Homo sapiens: one gene and its partners. The protein of the gene in region 1 interacts with the protein of each later gene in a pairwise test. Each region holds a gene or a part of one and is shown in the gene's direction. Other genes may lie near its edges. The genes, in order: EDA, CTXN3, MAL, LPAR3, SLC38A7, SEC22A and MS4A13.

Region 1 (3,500 bases):
GTAAACAGCAGTTTAGTTTTATACTATTATTAGTACTTAGCTTATTTATATTGTGAGTTAAGTAACTTTCTGTGGGCTTATCAGGAGAACTAGCCAAACTTTATTATGTTGATTGTATGAGAAAATGCATTTTTACATTCCAATCAAGTGACTCAAAAATACTACTCAGTTGAACCATGTGAAATTGTTGATTGATATTCAACCATTTTTGACAAAAATGGCAGTTTATTTTGAAATGCAGTCCTGTTGACAAGATGGAAATTACCTACACATTGATTTATTAATTTTATATTTAATACATTCATGTATCCTTCAAGATGCTAATCCTACACCTTAAGGATATTGGGTAAATCACAGAATTTTGAAGAAAATTTGTGTGGAATATTGGGGCTTTCTTGGGTCCAACCCATTTTTTTTCCACTTAATCAGAGATGGAGCAGACATGAGGACTCTGGAATTTTTTATTTTTTGAACTGATAATAGAATGAAAATGCAGATTCATTTGTTCTATTTTAGGCCCCAAATTAACCATTCTATTTTGAAGATTAAGTTTAATAATAATAGTAATAGCAAACATTTATTAAGTGCATGCTACATGCTAAGTACTGTTCTAACTCTGCAACTGTTTTATCTGCAAAGTACTATTATTATCCCTACTTACTGATGAGGAAACTAAAGTTTAAGTAACTTGTTCCAGGTTATACAGCTAGTAAGTGGCAGAGTTGGCATTAGAATCACTCAGTCCTACTACCGTGTTTACTGTTTACCTCAAGCACATGGTTTTACCACAGTAAAGCACTCATGCTAAAAGATTATGATTCAATTCAGCAAATATATATTTAAGCTATGATTATTAGTGAAGCCAGACCCATTCACATATGAAACATATTGTATTATTATCAGAGACCATTATAAGACAGTAGAGGACCAGGTACCAAAATTAGTCTTATAGACCACAAGTGCTATAGGAATCTCAGAAGAGGAGAAAATAATTGTGTACTTTGTCATGACTAACTCCCAGAAGAGCATTGACAAATAGTACCTCAGTATTGGATGCACAGCATTTTGGGAACAAACCAAAATTACATCATAAATAGCAATGTGGCAAAATCATGAATGTGTAATAATGAAGTCCAATGGGGAGCAGCAAATTCAAGGTTTTCTTTCTTTCTTTCTTTCTTTCTTTCTTTCTTTCTTTCTCTTTCTCTTTCTCTTTCTCTTTCTTTCTTCTTTTTTTTTTTTTTTTTTTACAGAGTTTTGCTCTTGTTGCCCAGGCTGGAGTGCAGTGGTGCGACCTCAGCTCACTGCAACCTCTGCCTCCCAGGTTCAGGCGATTCTCCTACCTCAGCCTCCCCAGTAGCTGGGATTATAGGCACCCCCCACCACCACACCCGGCTAATTTTGTATTTTTAGTAGAGATGGGGTTTCACCATGTTGGTCAGGCTGGTTTCGAACTCCTGACCTCAGGTGATCCGCCCACCTCGGCCTCCCAAAGTGCTGGGATTACAGGCGTGAGCCACTGCTCCCAGCCAAATTCAAGGTTTTCTGTTCAATTTTCTGTTCAACTCAAATTCTGAGTGAGCATCCTCAGTATGTGTGGGAAGTTAGAAATTTGTGGCTAGGCTCTCTGAATCCCAGAAATATATGAAGAAATGGGACCTGATGGATTATTTATTAGATATTCAGGGTGGAAGAAATGGGATTCAGAAATTAACCAAAATGTCATGCCTACATGATTGGAATAATAATGGTATCAAAAATAAAATGGTTTGTACAGTGGAGGGGAAGATGGGCTCAGGCTTTAGACACATCAAACTTAAGGTACAGGTAGACTGTCTATGGAAAGCTGGTTTTTTATGTTGGCTATGACTGAGTGGGGTCAACCTTTGACTAATGTACTTGTAATTTTTACAGATGGCCCTATTGAATTTCTTCTTCCCTGATGAAAAGCCATACTCTGAAGAAGAAAGTAGGCGTGTTCGCCGCAATAAAAGAAGCAAAAGCAATGAAGGAGCAGATGGTAAGTCTACTCAGTTGATCCTTTATCACTTCTGAATTATTTGTTAGTAAAAGTATCCTTTTAAGAACTACCTTCTTGGTAGGGCATGGTGGCTCACGCCTGTAATCCTAGCACTTTGGGAGGCCCACGCGGGCAGATCACTTGAGGTGAGGAATTCAAAACCAGCCTGGCCAACATGGTGAAACCCTGTCTCTACTAAAAATACAAAAAAAATTAGCCGGGCCTAGTCCCAGCTGCTTGGGAGACTAAGGCAGGAGAATCGCTTGAAACTGGGAGGTAGAGGTTGCAGTGAGCTGAGACTGTGCCACTGCACTCCAGCCTGGGTGACAGTGCGAGACTCCATCTCAAAAAAAAAAAAACAAAAAAAAAAAACCACTACCTTTTCAAGTGTGCTTCATCATCTTATATACTGTCCACCACAGACCCAAGGTCATAGACTATTTCTGCAGCCTAACCTACCAATCAGTCCTTTAACATAGAACTAACTATACAAGGATCCTCCCTCCTCCAACTCCAGATACCTTCAGTCCTTTCTCAGTATGTCTGAGAGCCATGATAGCATTTGTATCTCTCAAAATCACCCTCTATAAGGGCCTCATCTCTCCCGGAGATGTCCCACACCTATTAAGGTCAACAGGAGGATTTGGTTCTATTCTTGGAATTGACAGTGTTGTACCCTGCTAGCACTTACATGATGTGTTAATTCCAATGATAATTTTATCAATGTTGGTATCCACTACCATGCCCAAATCTGAACTAGACCTTCTAGAACTAGTTTATAAGTTTCTTGTGGGCAGAGATTTCATTTCTCTTTGTATAAGCCTAGAATCTAGCCTACTATCTGGAACATTGTTGGTGATTGTTATGTAAGTCGATGATGTTGACTGCCCCTTCAGCTAGGCAGTGATGTATCAATGGAAACCATCCCTGTTCTGGGTGTAATAGCTTTGAGTTAACTAGCAATGCATTCTGTGGGGCATAACAAAATGTTGAGCTAGCTCCTGGGCAGGGTCTTTGAATTGCTCTGATATTTCAGCATCACTCTGTCAATTGACATAATGCTACCCCTTTGGGCACAGGGGTTTGTAGAATACATAGCTCTGGGCTGCTGCAAAGGCATCTGGATTCAAAGACAGCATGTGTCTGGCTACATCTGCCAATAATATGTGTCTGGAGGGTTACAAAGCAATATGACTTTATACAGATGAAAATGAAAATTTTAAACTGACATTTGTTGATGTGAGTAAGGGCCACTGATGGAAGCAGTTTTAGAGGGCGGAAGCTATTAAAGAGATGGAGCCAGGACTTTGTCAGTAGGGGCAATAAGAAGTATAACTGGCTGAAATCTGAGAAAGAGCTCAGAACAAGGACCCCATAATAATACCAAAAAAAAAAAAAAAAAGAGCCAGAGCAGTAAGATAGGGTTTTCTAGTCAGTGGAGGTGGCAGCAGCATTGAGCCTTTGAATGGAGAACTGGACC
Region 2 (3,500 bases), on another chromosome or scaffold:
TGGTCTGATGTGCTGAGGAGACCTGCATTGGAGGCTCTGGCCTCCCTTCCTGCCCCTCCCTTCCTGGCCCACAAGGAATTAATACCCAAGGCTAGGAGGGTGCTTAGAAACAAGCAAACCAAAACAAAACCCAGTGCATTAATATCCTCTAAATTCCTAAAGAGCTTATTTTTTTAAAATGCGGTCAAATTTTTATCCCAATCTTACTTCCAAACAAACATGAATTATAAATGAGTTTTGCAACTGTTATAGCCTTTAAAAAAATTCAAAGTGATAGAGCTGCAAAAATGATGCATTACCCGACTGGTAACTCCTTCCTCCCAGATCCTGGCTGGGATCCCCCTTATAAATTGTTTTTTAAACTGTAATTTTACAAACTTTGAAGTGTCAATATAATGCAAACTGTTATGCTATGATTACTAATGCTGTACTTGAAGGCAATGATTATAAGTTAACTGAAGGAACATTGTATTGATGCTTTAGGTCACATATTCTATTTTTATTTGGTTATTTTCATTGAGCAAAATTTATTTTGTGTCCGTGTTAATTTCCGTAGCTAATTACTGTGCTTTGTAATTTTTATTATAAATAAATTCATAATAAATATCATTTAATTTTCTATATAGTAGTAGTGTCTAATGTATATACTTTTATTTACGATGTGATTTAAGTAGATTTCGTTCAGTATCTGAAGCTTTTAACGACCTCTGTGTATACTTGTCATGTATATACTTGTATATTTATACGGTAATATACACTTGTATATTTATACAGTAATATCTACATATCTAAGTTTTTCCACCAGTAAAATTAAAATAGTGTTAGCTTGTCCTTTTCCTTCTCTTCCTCTCTACTGAATAGTCTTAAATGGTAGGAAGCCACTCTAAGGAAAACTGTCCTTTTGAAAATATGCATCGATCAATTCCTTTCTCTTGGCTTAATTCTCTAGGTGCTTCCCAGGGTCAAGTATTGAACCTGGTCTTTGTTTTCTGAGGAAAAAAGAAAAAGCAGCAGTAACTTGATAGTTTGGGAGACTGAGATACCTCCGTTCTCCCTTGGCTCAGGCAGTAGAAAGGAAAGGAGAAGCAGCATAGCTCCCTTAGTTGTGTCTTAGGTGAAGCAACACTTGGCTTTGTTTGTTTTTCTTTTTTGTATACTTTTCAAAGGGTTTTCACAGCTCTTCATCCTTATTACAGCACCATGAAAGATGCAGGCATTGCTACTTGCATTTTTACAGCTTAGTGACCTCTCCAAGGTCCCACACCCGTTTTGCAGTAGAGTGGAGCCCGGAGCCCAGAACCCAATGCTCCTGGAGAAGGTTTCTATTTTAAGCACCTTTTCTAGCCTCAGTTTCCTTGCACTGGGGCTAAAGAGATCCCTGCTTTCGTGAAGCTTGCAGTAAAGTGGCTAACATGTTTCAAGTTTAGCCACTGTGCTGACACATAGCTGAGGCTCCCTCAATGGCGCTATCGTAAGAACAATGTGAGAGTAATATTAGTGGAGCAGAGCAGGAGGAGACTTGGCAGGGGAGGCTGGGTTCAGATGTCAAGTTGACAGTACACCCTGAGGTCAATATTACTGTGCACATTTCTCATCTTCTATATTATAGTCGTATTCCCTGCCCATCCCTCCTGGCCCCAGGTGGCTCTTCTGAGAACAATCTGGTAATTTCATGCAAGAGTAAAATATCTTTCCCGATAATTATACAGAATTGAGCATCTCTGGTGAAAAAGAAAGCTGGTTTACAGATTTCTTTTTCTCTCTGAAAAATATGACTGTGAACCTAAAAAAATAAGGCTGCTATTTTATAGGTATTCCTTTCCCTTCCTTTTTCCCTGCAGATAACTCAGCCTCTCCAGAGTGCAGCCACCATGACCTCCGCAGATTGATGATGGAAGAAAAGAAAACCAGGATATCCTGTGCTCTGGCTTCCCTGGACCATGGATGGAGGACAGCCCATCCCCTCATCCCTAGTGCCCCTTGGGAACGAATCAGCAGATTCTAGCATGTCCCTGGAGCAGAAAATGACATTTGTTTTTGTGATTCTGTTGTTTATTTTCTTGGGCATTCTCATTGTCCGGTGCTTCCGGATTCTTTTGGATCCATATCGAAGCATGCCAACCTCTACCTGGGCTGATGGACTTGAAGGCCTGGAGAAAGGGCAGTTCGACCATGCCCTTGCTTAGGAGGGATGGTGTGGGATCTCCTCCTGAGGAGATGAAGTGCTTTGTGTCTTGGTGAGGATTCCCTTTATTTAGTGTTCTCAACAAATCAAATTTAAACAATATTTGGTCCCAGGACCATAATCCATTATTCCATAAATATGCAGTTGGGTTAAAGACATTTGAGGATGTTGGAAATGGACACTTATATAACTAATCCAACATAAGAAGGTTTAAATTTTTATGTTTGCTCAATGAATGAGTACTCTTAAAATTGTGTGATTGTGAAACCAAGAGCGTTAATACTGACATAGATTTGCCATCAAACAAAACACCACCTGATCTGACTAAAGAATAAAAGACTAGAAAGGATCTCATATGAATCTGGTGACAAGGCCAGGAAGAGATTTCCTTGCTCTAATTATGTCTATATTTGTTTTATTTCATGGGCACCTATCTGGGTCCTGAGCAGAATGAGGAAGATTGTGCTGAATGGACCCAAAGTAGTTTCTTGTTTTCTCCCAAAGCAGGGAGCTTTGGGAAGCAATGGAAAAGCTTAAAAGAGATGATTCTGTCCTTGGTAAATGTGAGTGAGAATAGCGTTTTGTTTTTCAAGTAAAACTTAATTCAAAGGCTACAAAGTTTTAAAAACTATTTACCAAGCCAACTACATTATATGTATTCATATTAATAACATGTGTAGAGGTAGCTATACATTACTTGAATTTACACTTTACACAAATGATTTAAAAAATAGGTTGCAAGTGCAGCTTAAAGTTTTTTTTCAATGAAAAGTTAATTGTTTAGAGGAGAAGACTTTTATAGTCTTCAGAGGAATGTGTATTTATGATTGTATATAGTCACCAAATAAAACTTTTCAAGAAACAGAAATGCTTCCTCTCTTATTTCACCAGAACTAATGCACTGAGGGTGCTACCTGGTATTAAGTGCTGAGGCTTAACATTTTTCCAAGAGAGGAGAAAAGAGTTAACAGCATGAAAGCTCATCTAATTCATCCCTCTCCCATTTCAAGAAGAGCTCCTATAAATTGTCCTGCACAGACAAAACCGATAGTTTTTAAGACCACCAAAAAGGGAGATGTGAATACCTCTTATTCCAACTTTTGTTGGAAGGAAAAGCTTGTGTCTAAACCAACCCTGCAGATAACTCAGCCTAAACCAACCCCGTTAGGCTGTATTTATAATCTATGTCTTCTAGTTTTCTCCTCAGCTAGTCATTACCTTTTTTGATTAAAAAAAGCACACTTCTTTAACCTATTAATTATAAGATTTTCTTTTTCTTTCAAATGTACTGTGTCATGTGTGTCCTCATTAATTT
Region 3 (3,500 bases), on another chromosome or scaffold:
ACTACCTGACCATAGAAAGGAATGAAGTACTGATACGTGCTACAAAGTTGATAAACCTTGAAAACTCTATGCTAAGCAAAAGACACAAGGCACAAAATGTCATATAGTGTATGATTCCGTTTATATAAAATACTGGAATAGATAAATCCATAGAGACAGAACACAAACCCTGGTGGTTTGCCAGGGACCAAGGGGAGCAATTGTTTAATCGCTATGTGGTTTCTTTTTGGGGGTAATGAAAATGCTTTGGAATTAGATTGAGTTGGTGGGTGCACAACACCATGAATGTACTAAATGCCACTGAACTGTCAACTTAAAATGATTGGTTTGATGATATGTGAATTTCACCTCAAGTTTAAAAAACAAAAAATAGAAATATTTCAAATGCCACAGAAGAACATATACAATACTTTAACAGACACCTACATAATTATTGCCCAACTTTGTCAAATCTTAATATTTTGCCTTGTTTGCTGTTATGTATTAAGGAAATGAAGCTTTCAGATGGCATCTAAGCCTCCTAGACATCCTTCTGTTATCTTATTCTCTCTCTCCCTCCGTCCTCAGGGCCACCTGTAGGCTGAATGTGGTGTTCACTTCCAAGCACAGGTTAGACTTTTACTGCACACATATGAACTACACATGGCATTGTTTTACATGTTTTCGCACTTTATGAAAATGCCAGCATACAGTACGTATCCTTCTGCAACATGCTTTCCAGGCAACATTATGTTCTGAGATTTATACATGTTGACTTTGTTTACCCAGTCTTCTGTTAATAGACACTTTGGATAGTTCCAATTTGCTGCCTTTAGCTATTGCAGACAGCATTGCTAAGAACATTCTCATATTTGCCTCTGTAGTTACCTGTTGGAAATGTCTCCCAGAGACACTTGGAGGATGTGACTTGTTGGGTCACAGGGGATATGCACATTGTCATTTTCCCAGGTGTTATCACATTGCCGTCCAAAAGAGTAATTCCAATTTACACACCCCAGGAGCAGATTTACTGGGAAGCTGATGTTTAATTAAGTTCAAGACCCCTACTTACTCAAGCCCCTTCCAAGACTCTGCCTAATTTTGTATTCTCTTATAAAGATGGTCCTCCTGATTGTTTAAGCTTCAGGCTAAACCTGGACCTTCCCCGGCCCCTACCAGCAGCACATGAAAGTCGCCATTGTTCCTCATCACTTGGTAGCGTCAGACTTTATAATTTTCTGCTAGTCCAATGGGTGTGAAATGCTTGATTATTTTTTAAATCTGTAGTCCACTGAGTTGTTGATGACTCATAGTTCAGATTCCCATGCCTGACCTCCCAACAGCCTGGGAGGCGCAGATGTCCAAGCTGATCCGGGTGGAGCGCCACTTCCATGGTGAGGGGACTGCCCACTGGAGCAAGTGAGGGTGGCAGCTCAGGGTGGGGCATAGCAACCTCTCCTTGGCCCAGCACCCCTATCCCAGACCTCCTGACCTCTGAAAGCTGCAGAGTCCTCACAGGAAGAGGAAGGCAGGCCCAACTAGGAAGTGAGACTGCCTTTCCAAATACCTCCAGAGCCACAGAGGCTGTGCCCCTATTGCAGGTGGTGTGGTCATCAGTGCAGCCCCATATAGGCCAAGGGTGAAATAGCCAATGCTCTCCCCTCCTCCAACAAAACCCAGGGCTTTGCTTCTCGTCTGCTCCCCTGCAAAAGTCCCACCCAGTGAGGAACTTTTCCTTTTGGAGCCACTCTCTGTCTCTGTCTCCGTCTCCATTCTAAGCCAGGGACTTCCTTGACACTGGGCCACCATTCAGGGAATGAAAGGTTCACAGGGAAGGCTTTCTGTCTCAGCTGGGGCCCCCAGATGCGAGGTCTCCCACAGAGTGCCAGGAGAGACCCCCTACCCATTCAGGACTTGTGAAGGAAGTGCCTGAAGAGGGTTGTGAGATCATCTACTCAGCCCCCTCCTCCCCAGGCCACAAAGGAGGCAGGGTTGTGAGTGAGGGTGTGAGGAATGCCGCCCAGCCCTCCAGGGGCATGCCCTTCCTCCTCTGTGCCTCAGAAACACGAACAGAAGTGCAGTCACATCACGGGTTGGGGTTGGGGTGGGGAGACACCCGCAATCAGTTTGCAGTTTTGACAGTTACAGTGAACTGGACAGAGTAATGACTAAAATGACACCTTTTCTGTGACCCAAAGTGACTGGACTGTTATTAAGAGTGACCAGAGAGGTCTGGGGACTTCTGCTAGATTTCTACCTGGCTGGGGAATAGCCAGCCCGACAGAGCCGGGACTGGGCCATGGGCCAGCGAGGCAGTTTCGCATTAGGTGGTCCAAGCTGTGGCTGCACTGAGAAGGTGGCATGGGAACTCCTAGGAGACCAGAGACGTAGAATGACAGAAACCTCACTTTCAGAGCTGGCAGGGAACTGAGGCTCAGACAGGGAGCAACTTGCCTGGGTCACCGGGTCTCCAGGGTCCAGTGAGCACTTCTGGCAGTGAGCAGATCATGCCCAGGCTTCTCCTTTCACCTAATCAGCCACACGAGATTTTGCTTGCACTAGAAGGCACACTGGGATCCTGAGTAGGCAGCCCTGCCCACCTGGCAGCTCTGGGCAAGGCTTGGTCCCTTCTCTCCCCCAACAGGAATGAAGGGACAGCTCAGGACCACTGGGAAGCTCACACCTCCTCTGGGTCTCCTTGTCAAAAACACACCCTGCAGGTTCTGAGTCACGAGGTCCAGGGCAGGTTGAAGAACCCGCATTGCACTGCACACCCTCCACTGACTGGCTGAGACTTGGAGCGGACATCTCGAGGCCAGGCCACCCTCTTGATATTTTTATGGGGGATAGAATAGTGGGAACAGTTCTCAGGGAGAGGCTGGGGCAAGCAGCCAGGTGCTCTGAGGTTCTCACAAGTCAGACCAGGGACCTCCTCTGTTCTGGAGAAAGTTCCCTGCTGTGCTAGCTAGGAGCCTCTCCTACAGGCACCAGGGAGTGGGGCAGGCCCCGCTTGGCCAGAATGGGATGGTGGCTGAGTTGGCCTTCTCTGACTGTGTCCACTGGCTCCTGGCTCTGTCCCTTCTCTGTAGCTATTTAGAGAGGGCTACTGCCTGATCTTCCGTGTTTTCTCCTCTCTTCCTCTCTAAAGGGAGGAGAAGTGTTCTAGACAGAGATTTCACAGGGGTTTGGTGGAGAAGTGACTTTTCTGGTTTTTCAAGACCAGAGGCTGGCTTTGGTGAGGACTCAGTAACTTTGAGCTGCTCCCTGGAAACTGCTAAGTGTGATGATGGGGCTCATCTCCACAGGATTGTCAGACATGTGTCATCACACCTGAGCTATATTTTAAAAGATTGCCTTTTAGCTTTTCATAAGTCACTCCCCCACCTCACAGGGATGGGGCAATGCCAGAACTGGTGCAAAGGCACCCTTTCTGTCCCAGTGCTTTCAGAAGTGAGTAGGAAGCCCCACGATGCTGCTGCCAGCAGCGCTCACACTCAGGTCGGCCAGGGACAAGGGCTGAA
Region 4 (3,500 bases), on another chromosome or scaffold:
CATTGAGGTGTTAGTGCTTGATATAATTAAAAATTCGACCACATGTAAGAAATAAAACTAAAATGTTAAGATCCTTCAAAATAAAATTAGGAAAATTTGAGTAGTATTTTTGTAGTGTCTTAATTCCAATGTCTTTGTGACATATTCATCTTTATATTTCTAATAAATTAGTCAAAGATAATATAACTTTTAAATTAGAAATGTTTCTCTTAGATGTATAGAGCATGAAACAAAGTAAAATATATACATTATTTTTAATTAGAAAAGACACATAATAATTGTATTATTAAATTTTCCCATGTGGTGTCTTAGTCTATTCCTGTTGCAATAATAAAAATACTTTAGGTAATTAATAAATAACAGAAATTTATTGCTCACTATTCTGGAAGCTAGGAGGTCCAAGATCAAAGCATCAGTAGATTTGGTGTCTGGTGAGGGCCTGGTCTCTGCTTCCAGAAGGGGGCAAATGCTGTGTCCTTGAATGGCAGTGTGGCAAAAAGGGTCTCACGAGTTCTCTCAGGCCTCTTCAATAAGGGCACTAATCCCATTCACTTCCCAAAGTCCCCACCTATTAATATCACTGCAGTTAGGGTTAGGTGTCAACATGAATTTTGGAGGCACACAAACATTCAGACCATAGCAAGTGATTCTCGGATTGTTTGTCTTGAATTTCTGTATACTTTCAACATGGTTGAAAGCTGTATTTCTCTTTAAATATTTAAATTGAGTATCACTAGATTAGCACCTTGTATTTAACTCTCATATGCTGCTGGTAGAATTAAAAATATGATCTCTCAGGCTGGGTGTGATGGCTCATGCTTGTAATCTCAGCACTTTGGGAGGCCAAGGTGGGCGGATCACCTGAGATCAGGAGTTCGAGACCATCCTGGCCAACATGGTGAAACCCCGTCTCTACTAAAAACACAAAAATTAGCCGGGCGTGCTGGCATGCGCCTGTGGTCCCAGCTACTCAGGAGGCTGAGACAGGAGAATCACTTGAACCCAGGAGGCAGAGGTTGCAGTGAGCCAAGATTGCACCACTGCACTCCAGCCTGGGCGACAGAGCAAGACTCCATCTTGGAAAAAAAAAAATGCTATCTCTCTTAAGTGGAGTTTCACAAGATGTATCAGAAACCCTTAAATAGATTTATATCCTTTACTTCAATTTGAAATCTATGGGTTATTCCTAAAGAAACAATTGGCTAGATATATAAAGATTAATGAACAAGAATGCAGCCTTGCTTATAAAAGTGAAATACAGGAAGCAACCCTAATGTCCAGTATTTAGGATTAGTTAAGTCAGGTGTGGCCTATTCATATAATAGAATATTGTGAAGCTATTAAAATTATACTACCTGTATTTTTAATTTGGGGAAATTATGATATAGTGTAAATATATGATATTATCATGAATTTATTTGATATTTACAGTTAAATATTGGTGACTGTCTGCCAAAGAGAGTAATTTTTATTTTGTCATTATGAAAATTGAGTCTTCCTTTCTTGTAATTGAAAGATACTGGAACCATTTGTCTCTTGAGACTACTCCCAGTTTTTTTTAAGCATATAAAATGATATTTACCTCCCATTTGCTATGGCCAAAAAGCAATATCTAATTCATGTAAAAGTATCATTATACCATTAAAATATAAATTAAAAAAAAGACTGAGATACATTTCTATTTTGTACTACTTAATAGTTATCTGGTCTTCTTGATTCTGGTTGTGGTATTAGATTTCAGAATTTTCAGGAACTTTAAAATCTGGGGGCTTTTACTGAGCTTTTACTGTCACAGCTCCCAGAGGGCTGCTCAGTCCCTCTGCCGACTGAATCTCTGGTTCTCCAGGGAATAAGCTGCAGCCTCATTCTCAGTGAGGGAGCAGATGGTCATTCTTCCAAGAAGCTAGAACCCTGACCCTAAGCCCAATCTTCTTCCGTAGGACCGTTCATGGCTGTGGCCAGACCACTGTGAGGCAGAACACTTGGTTTTCCCCACCACGTGTAGACAGATGGGCATCCGTGGGGCTTCTGCCCAGCCCTTCCTTGGCCAAGATCCCTCGCTTTTGGGATTCAAGAGATCTTTTACTGAGAGGATTAGTGTCTTCCCTGTCTGCCTGATATCCCAGTTTGGGGTCTTCTTTCAGACAAGTGTCTGAAGAACATGCCCTCACTTAATAGATATGTTCTCACATCCACATTGAGTTGGAGATCTGCCCCAATTCCAAATCTCAGTCTTGCCTGTGGAAGCCCGATCCTCCTCCACCTGCCGTGTTGAGGAATGCTGGAAAATCCAGTGAGCAGGTTCACATTGGTACAGTTTGGGTTAGGAGACTATAAGGAAGAAGTGAACAAAAGGTAAGGAAGGGAGATATTGGGACCAAAGTCTCCATCCCTGCATCATATACCTAATATGTGAATATCAGAGTTGTTTGTTGAAACCAAAAGATGGCAAAAGGAGGATCAGGAGTGGAATCAGAAGTCATAGAAAACTGGTCTCTTGGGGTATCTGTTTGGTTATGTGAATGGTAATTCAACTCCTATTATCTTGGGAAGAATGTACCTGAAATTACCAACCTGCCGTTGATTAATGAACATATCCATAAATAACTAATGAACTGGGAGCCAGGAGGAGGCATTAACATAATGTGTTGTCATTGTGTTACCAGTGCAGAGTGGATATTGCAGGGCTCAGCACATTTGCCCTGTTGATGCCTCCATGAGAATTCATTCATTCATTCAGCCAGCCAGCCAACCTACCAATAATTACCCACCATGAGGCAGACAGAGCAACTGAATCCTAGGGTTGTAATGGTGAACAAAATAGAGATACACCCTCCTAACCTGAGCGGCCTAGCCTGGGAAACAAACAATTAAAATGTGCGCTAAATGCTGTGGTAGGAGGTCAGGGGCTATGTCCTGGACCAAAGGACATTTGCACTGAGACCTGACACTTCAGGTCTTCAACTCCCTTGATGGGAGTTAGCCAGAACGGGCTTAGAAACAGCAATTGATGGCTTAGTGACTGATTTTACAAATGATATTTGTTTCTTCTTTAAATTTCTTTCTAGGATGTTCACTTCTCCACAATGAATGAGTGTCACTATGACAAGCACATGGACTTTTTTTATAATAGGAGCAACACTGATACTGTCGATGACTGGACAGGAACAAAGCTTGTGATTGTTTTGTGTGTTGGGACGTTTTTCTGCCTGTTTATTTTTTTTTCTAATTCTCTGGTCATCGCGGCAGTGATCAAAAACAGAAAATTTCATTTCCCCTTCTACTACCTGTTGGCTAATTTAGCTGCTGCCGATTTCTTCGCTGGAATTGCCTATGTATTCCTGATGTTTAACACAGGCCCAGTTTCAAAAACTTTGACTGTCAACCGCTGGTTTCTCCGTCAGGGGCTTCTGGACAGTAGCTTGACTGCTTCCCTCACCAACTTGCTGGTTATCGCCGTGGAGAGGCACATGTCAATCATGAGGATGCGGGTCCATAGC
Region 5 (3,500 bases), on another chromosome or scaffold:
GCTCCTGGGGAACCCTGCTCCTCCATGCCACCTCACCTTGGGGAGCAAGAGTAGGCAAGGCAGGGCAGACCGGGGCTTGCAGGGTTTCAGATAAGACCATCCTTTTCTGTCTCCATCATAGAAAAAGGATGCATCCATGAGAGATTCAGTTCTAAATGTCCTTTTGCATCCATGAGTAGTTCAGTTCTAAGTGCCCTTGTCAAAGAAGGAACAGGTGGTATCTGGGCGGTGAAGGCAGCCTCCTGGCATTCCCTGGGAGGAATTTGGGTCTTTGAGACTGTCAGCCTACCAGCATCTTACCTGCAGCTTGGCATGAAGGAAGGAGACTGGTTTCCTGTCTCGGTGTCTGAAAGGCTGTGGGATTCTAGGCTTCCCCGTCTGTAAGTGCAGGGGCCATGCTCCGCTCTCTCCAAGGCTCCCATAAATGTTGACACAAAAGTGTCTGTACTCTCAACCCTCTTACCTCTGGCATCTCTTAGTTCTCAAAGGCCAGGCTCAGAGGATGGTCTCCCACAGCCCCTGCCCGGGCTGGGCTGCTCTGATTCAAGTCCCAGGTGTGCTTTGGAGCTCTGCTCTCTGCATCGTCTCTGAGCCATGGAGCTGAACCAGCACTTCCTGATGGCCAGGAATGCTGATCAGGTCCCCTGTTGGCTGTCCAGCTCCTTCCTAGCTGTGGCAGGTTTCTCTGAAACTACTTCTCAGGCGTTTCCTGAGTCTGCTTGGCATAGTCTCCGGTTCATTCAGTGGACACTTGTGGTCGCTAGAGCTGAAGGTGGATGTCCCTAGGGGTGGAATCAGATAAGAGGCAGCTGGGGATGAGGACACTTAGTCTCTCCTTCCCGGCAGCTTCCTGAGCGTCGTGGGTACCTGGTACGTCACAGCCATCGTTATCATCAAGTACATCTGGCCAGATAAAGAGATGACCCCAGGGAACATCCTGACCAGGTGAGGGTGAGGGCCCTAGGAGACATGGGGAAGAAGCCACCACTTGGGCCCCAGCAGGTGCTGGGTCAGGAACCAGAAGGCCACACAGGTGCTCTTCTCAAGGCTCATGAGCTCATCAGGGCTGACTTGGTCATTGTAGGAAGGAGGAAAGAGCCCCTGCTCTGATGTTACTGGAAGGAAGAGCAAGAATCAGAGACAGGAGGCACTTTGCCACCTACATCCAACAGATGAGCCAGTGTGAGGCTAGGCCTTGGGTTGTGGAGGAACCTGAGGGTGGAATCCCAGGGTCGAATTGCCTGTGTTTCCAGCATCTGCTTATCTGTAATTTCTGTATCTTTGAGGGTGAATTTATTATTAAAAAAAAAGGGGGGGGGCCAGGCACAATGGCTCACGCCTGTAATCCCAGCACATTGGGAGGCCGAGGCGGGCGGATCATGAGGTCAGGAGATTGAGACCATCCTGGCTAACACGGTGAAACCCCGTCTCTACTTAAAAAATACAAAAAAATTAGCCGGGTGTGGTGGCAGGCGCCTGTAGTAGCAGCTACTCGGGAGGCTGAGGCAGGAGAATGGCGTGAACCTGGGAGGCAGAAGTTGCAGTGAGCCGAGATCGCGCCACTGCACTCCAGCCTGGGTGACAGAGCAAGACTCCATCTCAAAAAAATACAAAACAAAACAAAACAAAAAAAACAATTTCCTTCTTTTGAAAGGAACAAACCAGTAAAGCAAAAGCCCCAGTCCAGGAGCCAGGAATTCTGGATTTTGGCCCCAGGGGGGCTTTTCTGAACCTCCAGGCCCCATCCCAGAGGGCCCTGGGACATAAGGATGCCTCTTCTCCCTGTTCCCAGACTTCTGTGGGTTGAAGCTATGGAATCCCAGTTGCTGGAGACCATGGTGGGCTGACCGAAGAGTGAGGGCGTGGGGTGGGTTGTGGCTCTGAGGGGTTCCCAGGTGGCAGCACCATGTGTGTTTGTTCACAGGCCGGCTTCCTGGATGGCTGTGTTCAATGCCATGCCCACCATCTGCTTCGGATTTCAGGTGCCAGTGCCAGTTGCAAGGTCCCTGCTGTCCCCTTAGATCACCCCACCCTGGGATGGAACCCAGCAAGGAGGAGGAACCCAGGCAGAATGGAGGAAATCCTGGGGGGAAGGATGGAACAGGGGCCTCAGGACTTGCCCCTTGTTCCTGGGGTCTTTGTTCCCAAGGTACCTTCCTCTGGAAACTGGGGTTGAGGTCATTTCCCCACCATGACGGTGCCCTTCACCTGGACAGTGCCACGTCAGCAGTGTGCCCGTCTTCAACAGCATGCAGCAGCCTGAAGTGAAGACCTGGGGTGGAGTGGTGACAGCTGCCATGGTCATAGCCCTCGCTGTCTACATGGGGACAGGTGAGTGCTCCCCCCCCCCAAGACCTGGGACTAGAGTGCTCTCACTTCCACAGGAGTCCCTAGGTCCTGGGGCCTAGCTTTCCTGGGGACAGCCCTGCATTCCCAGCATGACTTGTATAGGCATTGGCTTGAACTTGGCCTGCCTGGAGCCTCCTCCTGCCAAGATGAGAGTGGTGTATTCATCCATTCATTCACCAGTTCTAACTTGGTGCCTAGGAAGTGCCAGGAACGGTTCTCAGCATGGGGGATGCCATGGAGAGAGACAGAACTGGTCTTGCCCTCATGGAGTTGACATTCTTGTTGGAGAGACAGTCATGCAGGAGTAACTGGGGAATCAGTAAGGAATTCCAGATGGTGGCAAGCATCCTGATGACAGTGAAATAGGGAAGGTGTGTTTTGTTTTATTCTATTTTATTTTGTTTTGAGAAAGGGTCTCAGAAACTGTCGCCCAGGCTGGAGTGCAGTGGCATGATGATAGCTCACTGCAACCTCAACCTGCTGAGGTCGAGTGATCCTCCTGCCTCAGCCTCCAGAGTAGCTGGGACTACAGCCATGTGCCATTGTGCCCAGCTAATTTTTTTTTTTTTTTTTTTCTAGCAGAGACAAGGTCTCACTATGTTGCCTAGCCTGGTCTTGAATTCCTGGGCTCAAGCAATTCTCCTGCCTCGGCCTCCCAAAGTGCTGGGGTTACAGGCATGAGCCACCAACCCAGCCTAAAATGGGGAAGGTATGAATGGGACTGGATGGGTGGCTTTGGGAGTGGTTCACAGAAGGTTCTTCTCAGAGAAGGCCCAAATGATGAGAAAGAGCCAGAAGAGGAGGAGCTGGGGAAGAAGGGTTCCAGGCAGAGGAACCACAAAACACCAAATCACTGAGGCAGGGCCAGGAAGAAAGTCTATGTGGCTGGAGTGGTGTGTGATGGGGGCAGGTGAAGGCAGTGAGGCCAGACAGGCACTGGCAGCCAGATCCTGTTGGGCCTCGAGGGCTGCTGGGAGTCATCGAGGAAGTGTTTTAAGCAGGGGGGTGGTTCGGGGAAAGGTGGCTCTGGCTGCCGTGTGGAGAGTGGTTGGGGTGAGGGAGCAAGTCTAGGAGACCCTGGAAGAAGGATCCCCTGAGTTCTTTCCACGGATAGACCGTAGGAGCTGCCTGGGCCAATACTGTTCTAGCCT
Region 6 (3,347 bases), on another chromosome or scaffold:
TGAGAAATGAATTATCTTGTTACTGTCAAGTGAAAGTGGGTGTCCAGAGTCCCACGTGTTCTCCACTGATATCACAATAAGAGGGTAGAGGAGGGATTCATTGCCATCTAGTGGGAATGAAAGTCCTGGCTTCTACTTGCCTTTTCTGAAGCCATGCTGAAGGGTTAAAACATCTGCTTATAATGTTCTAGGCTCTCAACATTTGATGGTGTGGGTATGGGTGGGTCACAGGGGTTTTTTGTGTGATGTTTGGCTAGAGGATAATAGTTACTGTTTAAAAGTTTTCTGTCTTGCTAAGGTGCCTCTTTCCTGGTCTTTTACCAGAGAGAGCAAGATGTTATTGAGGGTCTTTTTTGTTGTTTGTTTTGATATGCATGCCTTGGCATTTCTAGTTGCCAGCTTCTTCAGCTCCAAGTCTGGGATATATGAAGCAAAAAAGAAAACTCAGAGAACCTACCACTGTGGCATTCTTGGATCTCAAGATTCTTTATTTGTCTGCTTTTCCTCCACAGTTCAGAGTCTTCTTATGCTTGTTTTACATATAATGTCCAGTGTTTTTATTTGTACTTAGTGGGAGAAATAGGGAAAAGTGTGTCTACTCCATCTTCCCAGAAACAGAAGTCCCTGAGCCGTTGTTTTTAAAGTAAGTTACAGACATCATGATATTTTTTACCTTAAAATACTTCATGATGTATCTTCTAAGAATACAGACATCTGTCTACATAGCCAGGACTTCATATCACATCTAAGAATTTAACATTGATACAATATTATCTAATATATGATTCCTATTCAGATTATTTCTGTTGTCTCCAAAATGTTTTCTGTGGCTATATTTCTCCTGATCCAGGATTATGCATTTCATTTGATTGTCGTGTACCTTTTGATCTATGATACAGTCTCCCAGCCTTTTTGTTGTTGTTCTATTTTAGTTTGGTTTTATCTTTCTTAACATTGACTTTTTTAAGAGTTCAGGCAAGTACCACAATCTGGATTAGTCTGTTACTCGTGATTATATTAAGGTTAAATATTCTGGCAACAGTGCTGTATAGTATAATATGCTGAATATCTCTCATTGCTTCAGTCAGGAAATGTGATAAGTTTGATCATTTGGTTAAGATGGTGTCTACCAGATCCCCATTGCAAAGATATCTTTTTCTTCTTTGTAATTAATAAGTAATATGTGGGGTAGAGACCTATTATTTTAAAAGCCTTGGAAAACCTTGAATTAAATATATGTGTGTGTGTGTGTGTGTGTGTGTGTGTGTGTGTGTATATATTACTGGAAATGCTAGCTCATTTTTACAGTAGCATTCCAAGCAATAAATATAGATAAAAAATGGAAATATAAAATCACCATTAAGCGAACACCACAGTAATCATTGTTGCAGGCAAGAATCATTAATGGATACTAAAATTAATGAGCAAAAGTATGATGAGATAAGATATTCACATAATCTCAACTCCCTGCCCCCAAGACAATAATTGCAAAGGGAATAGATACCACCTTATTAAGTGATCTAATTTAATATGTAATAACATGTATTGCGTATCACCTCTGATATTCTTGCCAAAATTGTATAACCTCATTTCAATCTTGACAAAACATCAGACACACCCAAGTTGAGGGACATTCCTACAACATAACTGATTAATACTCTTCAAGACTGTCAAGGACATGAATTTTTTTTTTTTTTTTTTTTTTTTTGAGATGGAGTCTTGCTCTGTTGCCCAGGCTGGAGTGCAGTGGTGTGATCTCGGCTCACTGCAACCTCCGCCTCCCAGGTTCATGCCATTCTCCTGCCTCAGCTTCCCGAGTAGCTGGGACTACAGGCGCCCGCCACCACACCCGACTAATTTTTTGTATTTTTAGTAGAGACAGGGTTTCACTGTGTTAGCCAGGATGGTCTCAATCTCCTGACCTCGTGATCCGCCTGCCTGGGCCTCCCAAAGTGCTGGGATTACAGGTGTGAGCCACCATGCCTGGCCAAAAATTTTTTTAAAAAAAGATGGAGGAGCTGTTACAGATTGGAATATACATGACAATTAATGCAATACAGAATCCCAGATTAGATTCTGGACCAGAAAAAGGACCCTAGTGGGACAATGGGCAAAATCTGAATAAAGTCTGTAGATTAGCTAAGAGTATTGAATCAATGTTCATTTCCTGGTTTGATGATTATACTATGATTACATAAGAGGATAACGGGGAACAGGGTGAAGAGTATACAGTAAACAAAGCGTATACAATAAACTGTTTTTGCATCTTTAACTCTAAAATTGTTTAGAAAGAAAAAGCTATTTTTTTCTATTTTTTCAGTCTTATATGATGAAAATCACTGATAAATACTTCCAATTCATTTTGCTTGGATAGCAGTCTTCTTTTTAAGTAAACAGTCCAAATTTGCATAAGAACTAAACATATTTAACAGAACATTTCCACATTCTTTCTGCATTATAACAGACACTGGTGTGTCCTTCCCATTCTGAAGCCTGGACACAGTTTCTCAGAGAGACCTGGGCCTCTCTCTTAGACTTTGTGGTTCCTATACTTACCAGGTTGTGAATTTTAGACATCTTCTAGAAAACAGTTTATTCACTCAACACATTGAGCACTTACTATGTCCCAGGCACTGTTCTGGGCACTGGAGATAAATGAGTAAATAACAGTAAAAAATCTCACCCCTCATGAAATAGATTCTGTTGAAAGCCTATGGATGACAAACAAAATAAGCACATTTCTCAAGTATGTTTATAGTATGTTGTGGAGAAAAATAAAGCAGTAAAGGGTGAATGCCAGGATGGGCAGGAGCGGTGAGAGGGGGAGTACTTTCTTGACCGTTTCATCTAAAATAGCACCCACTATCATTCTTACTCCCTATCCCTTTTTCCTGCTTTCTCTTTTTCAAGACATAACTGTTTGATATTATATATTTAAAATACATTTATAATTCTTCCCCATTAAAATTTAATATTTATATGAACAAGGGCTTTGTTTTACTTACAACTGAAGAACAATGCCTGACTTGTAGCAGGCCCTGAGTAAATATTTGTTGAATGAATTCTCCCTCAAATGTTCAGTCAGATGCTGTACCTAGCATAGTTCCTTGTACTCAGTGGGCGACTAGTAAAATGTTGTGGATTTTGTTAATACTCAGACTCAGGTTATATTAAGAGTCCATTTTGTAGAATAGCTTGTATGTGCTTTTTTGTATTTTCCTGGGTGAGAATGGAACACCCGCAGACCCTGGGAATGCTTCTTAGTTGCCTGTCACCATGGGGAATTTGCTCAGCCTGTTTGCAAGGAAGTCATTCCATTGTACTTCCATTTAAAATATGATACAAAA
Region 7 (3,830 bases), on another chromosome or scaffold:
AATAAACAGACATAAAGAGAGCAAAAAAGATATTGCCCAGTCCGAAGAACAGGAAAAAAAGAAAATGAAGAAAACTGTACAGAACCTCAAAATCCTTTGAGATACCATCACATGTATAATGGGAGTCCCATAAAAATGGGGAGTACCAGAAAAAAAATTAAAGAAATAATGGCTCCCAAATTCCCCTAATTTCATGGAAAACATTCAATACATCCAAAAAGCTCAAGGATCTTCAAGTAAAATAAACACAAAGAGATCCTCCTAGACACCTCCATGTCAAACTGATAAAAAAGAAAATCTTGAAAGCAGCAAAAAAAAATAAAAACAAGACTCTTCATATATAAGGGAACCACAATAATATAAACAGCTGGGTTCTCATCCAAAACAATGGAGGCCTGAAGGTAGTGGAATGGGATATTAAAGTGCAGGGGGAAAAACAGTCAGGCAGGAATTCTTTATCCTTTAAAACTATCCCTCAAAAATGAAGGTGAAATACAGACATACACAGATGAATAATGTGTTGCTAGCAGAAATTCCTCATGAGAAACACTAAAGGAAGTTCTTTAGACTGAAGTGACATCAGATGAAACTCAAATGCACATGAATAAATAAAAAAAGTGCCAGTAAAAGTAATTATGTAGGTGGTTATGAAAATCAGTATAAATACATCTTTTGTGTTTTCTTCTGTTAACTGATTTAAAAGACAGTAGCATTAATTGCATTGGGCTCACCCAGGTAATCCAGGATGATTACCTTAATTTAAGGTCGTGTTATTAGTAACATTAATTCCATCTGTCATAACTACTCAGCTCCACCTTTTAGCATGAAAGTATTCATAGACAATACATAAAGGAATGGATATGGCTTGTTCCAGCAAAACTTTATTTGCAAAAACGGGAGTGGGCTAGATTTGGTCCATGTATCATAGCTTGCCAACCCTTCTTCAATAGACAGTTTCTCAATTTTTCTCTTAAATTTTAAAAGATAAGATTATAAAAGCAGTAATTATAACACCATATTGGTAGTTACATAATATATATAGATAGAATAGATGACAATAATAGCACAAAGAAAAGGAAAGGGAATGAGTTATATGGGAATAAAGTTGCTGTATTTTACTGGAATTGAATTAGCATTCATCTGAAGTAGACTGTGATAAATTAGGGTGCTTATTTAGTGATTAAGCAAGCTAAAAATATAATAGCTTAAAAACAAGGGAATTAACATACACAAAGTATGTTTAATTTTTAAAAAATAAAGAAAGAACACAATGGCCAGGCTTGGTTGGTTAACACCCATATTCCCAGCATTTTGGGAGGCCAACTCGGGAAGACCATATGAGCCCAGGAGTTCAAGACCAGCCTGGGCAACATGACGAGACCTCATCTCTACAAAAAAGTAAAAATAAAAACACTAGCTATGCATAGTGCCACATGCCTGTGGTCCCAGCTACTTAGGCAGCTGAGGTGGGAGGATCACTTGGAACCCAGGAGGTCAAGGCTGCAATGAGCCATATTCAGGCCACCGTACCCCAGTGTGGGTGACAGAGTAAAACCCTATCTCACAAAAAAAAAAAAAAAGGAAAGGAAAAGAAAACACATGAGACGTGTATAAAACAAATAATAAAATGTCAGATATAAATCTATTCATTGTAATAATAACATTAAAATGACAGAGATATTTTAAAGTACCTACTGGAATGACTGAATTTCAAACTATTGACAATGCCAACTGATAGCAAAGATTGTAGATAAAAGAAATATCTCTCAAACTCCTAGTTGAAATATAAGTTATTGCAACAATTTTTAAAACCTTTTGGGCATTACCTACTAAAAATTAAAATGTGCATACCCTATGATCAGTAATTTAAGTCTTTGGTATATAACCAACAGAAATGTTTGCGCTTATGCATTAAGATAAACTTCCAGGAATATATAGAGAGCAGTATTATTCATAGTAGTCCCAAAGTGGAAACAACACAGGTGGGTGAGTGATGAATAAGTTGAGGTGTATTACTTCATTCAAATTTGACATGGTGATTAAAAGCAACTATACCTGCACTTAACATCATGGATGGATCTTACAAATAAAATGTTGAGTATAAAAACTCAAAAGAATGCATACTTGTAAAAAAATCCATTCATATGAAGTTTGAAACCAGGTAAAACTAAAGCTAACCTATAGTGTTTAGGGATGAAGCTTAGTTCATGAAACTAGAAAAAAAATTGACCTTATCTAAAAGTCAAAATGACCATTACCTTGAAGGGAAGGAATAGGTAATGGTTGAGAAATGTCATGAGAGGCTAGGGTGCTGGCATCTATTAAGATTTATGTTCAAGAAGACTATGGTTATTTTTATTATAAAAGTTTGAAGGTACACCAAAAGATACAAGTGATCCAACAGAAATTAAGAAAGTAGGTTGAAGGCTGGGCATGGTGGCTCACACCTGTAATCATAACACTTTGGGAGTCTGAAGCAGGAGGATCACTTGAGGCCAGGAGTTCAAGATCAGCTTGGTCAACATGGTGAAACCCCGTCTCTACTAAAAATACAAAAAAATTAGCCAGGCATGGTGGCACAGGCCTGTAATCCTAACTACTCGGGTGGCTGGGGCATGAGAATCTCTTGAGTCTGAACCTGAAAGAGAGGTGGTTGCAGTGAGCCGAGATCGCACCACTGCACTCCAGCCTGGGCGACATGACCTTGAAAACAGAACAAGACCTTGAAAAAAAAAAAAAACCCAAGGAAGGAAGGAATGTAGGAAGGAAAAAGAGAGAGAGAGAAAGAAAGAAGAAAGGGAAGAAAGGGAGGAAGGGAGGAAGGAAAGAAAGAAAGGAAGGAAGGAAGGAGAAAGAAAAAGAGAAAGAAAGAAAGAAAAAGGAAAGAAAGAAAGAGAAAGAAAGAAGAAAGGGAGGAAGGGAGGAAGGGAAGAAAGAAAGAAAGAGAAAGAGAAAGAAAGGAAGAAAGAAATAAGGTTGAAATAGGAATGGGACAGAAATAGGATACTTTAAGATTTCACTCTATAAATATCAGTATTACCTGTATTTTTTAAGAAAAAGATCTATTTATTAGTTGTATAATATTAAGAAACATGATATGATTTGTAAGAGGTTACTTTTTTTCCAGTTTCGAAGACAAAATGATCTTACATCTGTTACTGAGGAAGCTGAGAGCACTCCTTAAAAACCCTAGAAATATGAGAATTTTGCTGTTGCTGATGCCTGGTGTGGGTCCTAATGATATCTCTGTATAACAAAGCAGTTACGAAGCCTACAGATTTTGTGCAAAATAAAATACAAACAAGGTGAATTTTTCTCCTCATTCAAAAATGTCTCTGCTTATATTTTTCTAGGCTGCAAGGAAAGTTTTTCCCTATTTAAATATGAGATTATTACAGGATGAATGTGTTATCTAGGTACGCTGAATAGCTGTCAACTCTCCATAATAAAGCTTTTGTAAGAGACTGTAAAAAAGATTCATTATTATCTCTAGAGTGAAGGCTATAAAGACTTGGGCCATGATGTCGTATAATTCACAGGAAAACTTTAAATACTTATGTCCATACAAGCAGAAAGCACATTTTACAGTCTGAGTTCTTCTACTTTAACTAGCTTCTATCAAAGTATGAATCAAAAGGCCTCTAATTCATATTTCCTTCATTGTTCTTTGACTTCTCTTCTCCTTATTTAAAGTTCCTTTCTGCCCTGAACATATCTGCTATCTTTCTTATCTTTCTTTCCCCTTGCTTCTTTCTTCTTATCATTGTTTGGATCACCTGTTCAACTGCTTTTCAAAGCAGACAGACTGTCCACAATAAGGAGAATTTTCT

The links.
Region 2: the proteins of EDA (region 1) and CTXN3 interact in binary tests that used the Homo sapiens proteins (3 or more experiments, as listed by UniProt).
Region 3: the proteins of EDA (region 1) and MAL interact in binary tests that used the Homo sapiens proteins (3 or more experiments, as listed by UniProt).
Region 4: the proteins of EDA (region 1) and LPAR3 interact in binary tests that used the Homo sapiens proteins (3 or more experiments, as listed by UniProt).
Region 5: the proteins of EDA (region 1) and SLC38A7 interact in binary tests that used the Homo sapiens proteins (3 or more experiments, as listed by UniProt).
Region 6: the proteins of EDA (region 1) and SEC22A interact in binary tests that used the Homo sapiens proteins (3 or more experiments, as listed by UniProt).
Region 7: the proteins of EDA (region 1) and MS4A13 interact in binary tests that used the Homo sapiens proteins (3 or more experiments, as listed by UniProt).

What each region holds. Positions count from the first base shown.
Region 1 is NC_000023.11:69,955,113-69,958,612, forward strand, and holds part of EDA (ectodysplasin-A), read left to right. Parts: intron 1-1,914; coding exon 1,915-2,020; intron 2,021-3,500. UniProt on the Homo sapiens protein: Cytokine which is involved in epithelial-mesenchymal signaling during morphogenesis of ectodermal organs. Functions as a ligand activating the DEATH-domain containing receptors EDAR and EDA2R. May also play a role in cell adhesion.
Region 2 is NC_000005.10:127,655,582-127,659,081, forward strand, and holds the end of CTXN3 (cortexin-3), read left to right. Parts: intron 1-1,841; 5' UTR 1,842-1,940; coding exon 1,941-2,186; 3' UTR 2,187-3,049; downstream 3,050-3,500.
Region 3 is NC_000002.12:95,028,708-95,032,207, forward strand, and holds part of MAL (myelin and lymphocyte protein), read left to right. Parts: intron 1-3,500. UniProt on the Homo sapiens protein: May be involved in vesicular trafficking from the Golgi apparatus to the cell membrane. Plays a role in the maintenance of the myelin sheath, and in axon-glia and glia-glia interactions.
Region 4 is NC_000001.11:84,865,707-84,869,206, reverse strand, and holds part of LPAR3 (lysophosphatidic acid receptor 3), read left to right. Parts: intron 1-3,068; 5' UTR 3,069-3,086; coding exon 3,087-3,500. UniProt on the Homo sapiens protein: Receptor for lysophosphatidic acid (LPA), a mediator of diverse cellular activities. May play a role in the development of ovarian cancer. Seems to be coupled to the G(i)/G(o) and G(q) families of heteromeric G proteins.
Region 5 is NC_000016.10:58,674,771-58,678,270, reverse strand, and holds part of SLC38A7 (sodium-coupled neutral amino acid transporter 7), read left to right. Parts: intron 1-846; coding exon 847-945; intron 946-1,924; coding exon 1,925-1,982; intron 1,983-2,149; coding exon of another isoform or gene 2,150-2,195; exon of another isoform or gene 2,196-2,216; coding exon 2,217-2,331; intron 2,332-2,547; coding exon of another isoform or gene 2,548-2,657; exon of another isoform or gene 2,658-2,737; intron 2,738-2,928; coding exon of another isoform or gene 2,929-2,957; exon of another isoform or gene 2,958-3,021; intron 3,022-3,500. UniProt on the Homo sapiens protein: Symporter that selectively cotransports sodium ions and amino acids, such as L-glutamine and L-asparagine from the lysosome into the cytoplasm and may participates in mTORC1 activation. The transport activity requires an acidic lysosomal lumen.
Region 6 is NC_000003.12:123,267,943-123,271,289, forward strand, and holds part of SEC22A (vesicle-trafficking protein SEC22a), read left to right. Parts: intron 1-3,347. UniProt on the Homo sapiens protein: May be involved in vesicle transport between the ER and the Golgi complex.
Region 7 is NC_000011.10:60,539,392-60,543,221, forward strand, and holds the end of MS4A13 (membrane-spanning 4-domains subfamily A member 13), read left to right. Parts: intron 1-3,127; coding exon 3,128-3,184; 3' UTR 3,185-3,330; downstream 3,331-3,830. UniProt on the Homo sapiens protein: May be involved in signal transduction as a component of a multimeric receptor complex.